2 separate regions of the Homo sapiens genome follow, and region 1 is linked to region 2. Evidence: fine-mapped expression QTL. A gene starts in region 2. The other region holds a variant in brackets. All regions are shown on one strand. Distances are between the middles of the regions. Region 1 overlaps DOCK3 (dedicator of cytokinesis 3). Region 2 holds the start of MANF (mesencephalic astrocyte derived neurotrophic factor).

Region 1 (2,914 bases), 180 kb before region 2:
AGAGCCTGCATTGCCAAGTCAATCCTAAGCCAAAAGAACAAAGCTGGAGGCATCACGCTACCTGACTTCAAATTATACTACAAGGCTACAGTAACCAAAACAGCATGGTACTGGTACCAAAACAGAGATATAGATCAATGGAACAGAACAGAGCCCTCAGAAATAACTCCGCGTATCTACAACTATCTGATCTTTGACAAACCTGACAAAAACAAGCAATGGGGAAAGGATTCCCTATTTAATAAATGGTGCTGGGAAAATTGGCTAGCAATATGTAGAAAGCTGAAACTGGATCCCTTCCTTACACCTTATACAAAAATCAATTCAAGATGGATTAAAGACTTAAACGTTAGACCTAAAACCATAAAAACCCTAGAAGAAAACCTAGGCATTACCATTCAGGACATAGGCATGGGCAAGGACTTCATGTCTAAAACACCAAAAGCAATGGCAACAAAAGCCAAAATTGACAAATGGGATCTAATTAAACTAAAGAGCTTCTGCACAGCAAAAGAAACTACCATCAGAGTGAACAGGCAACCCACAAAATGGGAGAAAATTTTCACAACCTACTCATCTGACAAAGGGCTAATATCCAGAATCTACAATGAACTCAAACAAATTTACAAGAAAAAAACAAACAACCCCATCAAAAAGTGGGCGAAGGATATGAACAGACACTTCTCAAAAGAAGACATTTATGCAGCCAAAAAACACATGAAAAAATGCTCACCATCACTGGCCATCAGAGAAATGCAAATCAAAACCACAATGAGATATCATCTCACACCAGTTAGAATGGCAATCATTAAAAAGTCAGGAAACAACAGGTGCTGGAGAGGATGTGGAGAAATAGGAATACTTTTACACTGTTGGTGGGACTGTAAACTAGTTCAACCATTGTGGAAGTCAGTGTGGCGATTCCTCAGGGATCTAGAACTAGAAATACCATTTGACCCAGCCATCCCATTACTGGGTATATACCCAAAGGACTATAAATCATGCTGCTATAAAGACACATGCACATGTATGTTTATTGCGGCACTATTCACAATAGCAAAGACTTGGAACCAACCCAAATGTACAACAATGATAGACTGGATTAAGAAAATGTGGCACATATACACCATGGAATACTATGCAGCCATAAAAAAGGATGAGTTCATGTCCTTTGTAGGGACATGGATGAAATTGGAAATCATCATTCTCAGTAAACTATCGCAAGAACAAAAAACCAAACACC[G/A]CATGTTCTCACTCATAGGTGGGAATTGAACAATGGGAACACATGGACACAGGACGGGGAACATCACACTCTGGGGACTGTTGTGGGGTGGGGGTAGGGGGGAGGGATAGCATTGGGAGATATACCTAATGCTGGATGACGAGTTAGTGGGTGCAGCGCACCAGCATGTCACATGTATACATATGTAACTTACCTGCACATTGTGCACATGTACGCTAAAACTTAAAGTATAATAATAAAAATAAATAAATAAATAAATACAGTGAAAAAAAAAGAAAAAGAAGGTCCACATCTATCACCACAGTATGAGGTTTAAGGATTTAGAAAGCACTTTTACCTAAATATGCCTTTAATAACTACATCAGGTATAACACGAGGATGCTGCTAAAAGAATGGAAGAGTAAGATAGAGAGGCATGAAATGATGAAGACTTTGATGGGGTTAGGACTAAAGAGAATAATTTTAAAAACTGAACAATTGGCCCAGGTGTGGTGGCTCATGACTGTGATCTTAGCACTTTGAGGGCTAAGGCGGGAGGATCGCTTGAGTTCAGGAGTTCGAGACCAGCCTGGGCAACATGGTGAAACCTTATCTCTACAAAAAAAAAAAAAAGACAAAAATTAGCTCGGCATGGTGGTGTGTGCCTGTGGTCCCAGGTGCTCTGGAGACTGAGGTAGGGGGATCACCTGAGCCTGGGGAGGTGAAGGCTGCAGTGACCAGTGATTGTACCGCTACACTCCAGCCTGGGCGACAGTGAGACCCTGTATAGATCAGTTAATAGATAGATAGAAAGAAAGAATTCATTGTTAACAGCATATAGTATTTGAAAGCAAGTGCTGTATTAAGAGAATAAAAGGAAGCATTGGTAATTGAAGGTAAATTGATGCCTTTGTAACAATAACTTGGCAGTTCTGCAAAGCTAAATGTTTTTTATAGCCAGTCATGAGTAGACTGCAAAATTTCGAGAGTTCAGTCTTGGCAATCTGCAAATGAATCTGCATGACATTTGATTTCAAACAATCTTTCCTTTGAAGCTACCAGGAGTTTCTTTCAAGCATACTTCCAGCCATTGGTGCTCCCATCCTCCTTGACTCAAATAGGCACAAATATGACCATTCATTTTTCCTTTACTTTCCCCAGAAATGTGATTGTTTTCACTGCTCTTTTACTGTTTTCCTCTTAAGATAAATCTAGTAATGATTTCATAAGATGACCATAATGCAGAATGTTTTCCTCAATATCTGCCTTAGTGTAATGTAATTCTGATGCAGAATGATGGCAAAGTTTTAATTAGCAACATTTAAGCTATAAGAAATAACCAATTGACCTTGGCAATTATTCCATTTATTTGTTCAACAAATATTATATTAAGCACTTATTATGTGCTACAAGTTTTGCTACATGGTGGAGATGATTAGCAAGACACAGTCCTTATCATCTAAGGACTTGCAGTCGAGTGAAGTGACAAATAGGTGCCCTAAAATATAATAGGTATTCTTCTAGAAATCAGAATTCAGTGAAGACCCAAAAGAAGTAGTGGTCAGGTCTAAGGTAGGGATGTTGAGAATGGAGAATAATAGAGCAAGCTGGAAAGGATTCATAGAAAAGGCAATATTGAACTGAATCCTTTAAAAAAAAAAGAGAGAGACGGGGAAAGAAAGGCAAGAAATA
Region 2 (2,914 bases):
ACCTTCTCCACTTGGTGGCACAAGAGGTAGGGAGGGGAGTATGGGTTCATTTGGCTTCGCATTATGCAAGGTGAAACCGTTTGTTTTCCCTCTCCATTTTCCCTAACTAAATGAAAAGGACACATTCTGAAATCCCTTTTGTTGGAGAATAAGTCAGTCTGAGGGGAAATGGGAGGCCAGAGATGAGAACCCTTTGAAAAGATTGTAAAATACTGATTTTCATTCTTTCAAGCTTATTTGTAAATACCTATTTGAATGCTGTGTATTTGTACAGGAATTTGAGCAAAAAATGTATAGAGTGTGATGTCCAATTGGTATTCAGCACTATAAATGTGTTTTTAACCTCCCGCATTCTGTGCTTATTTAAAACAAGGAAACTTCTAACCATTTCTTTTGTGTATTCATGTTTAAAGAAAAAAAGTGATTTAAAAATGATCTTACCTGTACCAGAAAAGCAAAGTTAAAGGAAACAAAATTTGTACCATTGTCCCAAGAGGTATTTTACTGTATATATTGTGGTAGCATGTTCAAAATCCAACAAGTAATGTGAATTTTAGATGTAAATATCTGCCACTTGATTTTTTTTCCCCCTTTCCCCACTTCCTTGACTGCTGTGATGTGAATTAAAGATAAATACGTGATACTGATCCACTGAATTCACTGAATGGGAGCAGAGGATGTGCCCCTCTCCAACCCTTGTCGCCGGGCTCCAAGCCCTTTTTAGCCCTATAGACATGTCCTTTTTGCACTGAGTAGAGCCAACGGTTCCCGCATCCTGCCTTGAAGGCAGGCAGCCAGGAGGGCACTTGAAAGGAGGGCAGTCGAAAAGGAAACATCCTCCAGTGCTTCTCTGGTGATTCCCGGGACCCCACTCAGGAGGTCCCACGGCAGCGGGGGACCCCGAGGGCCTAGCCGGGGAGGCAGGAGGAGGCTGGCCAGCCACCAAGCCACGATTCAGAGCTTGTAAGGGCACCTCCCGAGCCCCTCACCTTCCCACTCTGAGGCGACCCCATGTCCTCGACCGATGATCTGGCCCGGGCGCTTCCCTCCACGGTCTAGAGTGGCGGCCCAGCTTTGAGCTTGGCGCGCCTTGAGCCCTTCCTTCAGATGTCCCGCAGTCCGTCCACCCCGCACGTCTCCTATCAGCCTATGCACGGCGGGCTCCGGTCAGGTGGAGGATCAGCAGGTGGGCTTTCAAAGGTTGGATCCGTTGCCCACGCGAATGAAAGAAGAAAAAAGAAACCTCTTTGAGCCTTGCCTGCGGCCGCCCGCCCTTCCTGCCTAACCTGTTGTCTTGGCTGACCCCAGAACTCCTGCACCACGAGTCGGAGTCCGGGCGAGGAGATCAGCAGGGGTTTTCGAGGGAGCCTGGGGCCCAGGGCAGGGGTACGCGGGTCAACTCAACAGATGTAAGGCGTGGCCGAACCCCATTCAGCTAGCAGTACCCAGCCTCAGCCACAGTCGCTGCCCTTACCCAAGATGGCGGCCCACACCGCTTCCGTCGCTGCTGTAGTCGCTTCCTGCGGCCAGCCCGGGTTCAATCAGCGGCCGACAACTGTCTAGGGCTCAGACACCACCAGCCAATGAGGGAGGGCAGCGTGGAGCCGCCCGTCTGGGCTCGCGGCTCCTGGACCAATGGGGAAGTGGCATGTGGGAGGGCGCCGGGGGGCCCCCCGCCAATGGGGAGCTACGGCGCGCGGCCGGGACTTGGAGGCGGTGCGGCGCGGCGGGTGCGGTTCAGTCGGTCGGCGGCGGCAGCGGAGGAGGAGGAGGAGGAGGAGGATGAGGAGGATGAGGAGGATGTGGGCCACGCAGGGGCTGGCGGTGGCGCTGGCTCTGAGCGTGCTGCCGGGCAGCCGGGCGCTGCGGCCGGGCGACTGCGAAGGTGCGGGATAGGGGGCCGGGGGCCGCGCTCCGTGACCGTTCTGGCGGCGGCGCTGAACCCCACAACATCACCAGACGGCCGGGGCCAAGAGGGCGAGGGCGGGGGCGGGGGCGGGGGCGACAGCAGGTCCCCGCGGGGCCTGCATGAGGAGGCTCCGGCGCCCGCCCTAGTAAATCTTTCTTGGGCCTAGAAAACATTGGTCCGACGAAGAAAAGTTGAGACTAGATCCCGTTGAAAACTTGTCCTGAAATCTCCATCACTCCTGAGTTATTGTCCCCACCACCATCTAGAGGTTACCGCTCCCCGTTCGGCGTCGGGAGCTCCAGGGCTGGCCGTGGGTGCTGCGCCCTGTCTGTTGGGATCACGAAGCTGCACCTCTGGGTCCGCTGTTGTATTTGGAAATTAGCAGCAGCATTTTGATCATTTTTCTCTTCACCTTCCAGTCTCTCCATTTATGAGGTCACAGTGAGTCCCGTCTCAAGGACACGTGTTCACCATGGGCTTAAACTTGATGAAAGGAGCAGGGAGAAGTCGTTTATAGGTCATTGGGTGATGCTTGGTCCTTTGATGCCCTGGGTGTACCAGGGGACCCCCGCCACTTGGAACCGGGTTCTGTCTACCTGTAGACACCTGAGAAAAATCGGTGATGGAAAAGCTCACCTCTAATGATTCATCTCCGTGTCTCCTATTAAAATTGCTGGCGGAGTTCTTTTCTGGTGGATTGGAACAGCTTGGTGATTGCTGAGCATCTCCCGTCCCTCTCTTTTCCAGTTTGTATTTCTTATCTGGGAAGATTTTACCAGGACCTCAAAGACAGAGATGTCACATTCTCACCAGCCACTATTGAAAACGAACTTATAAAGTTCTGCCGGGAAGCAAGAGGCAAAGAGAATCGGTTGGTAAGTAGCTGGTGATCCTCCCCAACTGGCCCTGGCTCATGTTAACCCTCGGCTTCACCAGCCGTTTGATAAAAGGCCTTGCCCACCTCTCTGTTCAGGAAGCCAGCTACTCTCTCCATAAACTAATGTG

What was found.
Region 1: its variant is fine-mapped to the expression of MANF in whole blood (TOPMed, PIP above 0.99).

Annotation. Positions count from the first base shown.
Region 1 is chr3:51,203,690-51,206,603 of GRCh38, forward strand. The region is part of intron 12 of DOCK3 (dedicator of cytokinesis 3); the gene reads left to right. Among named protein-coding and RNA genes, the nearest start is that of MANF, 180 kb to the right of the region's middle. The variant G/A (reference allele first, on the strand shown) is at 1,244.
Region 2 is chr3:51,383,552-51,386,465 of GRCh38, forward strand. MANF (mesencephalic astrocyte derived neurotrophic factor) reads left to right here and starts at 1,740. Exons shown (of 4, transcript NM_006010.6): 1 at 1,740-1,885; 2 at 2,657-2,784. The coding sequence starts at 1,792. DOCK3 (dedicator of cytokinesis 3) reads left to right here. Exons shown (of 53, transcript NM_004947.5): 53 at 1-647. RefSeq lists an enhancer at 1,156-1,505 and a silencer at 1,566-1,935.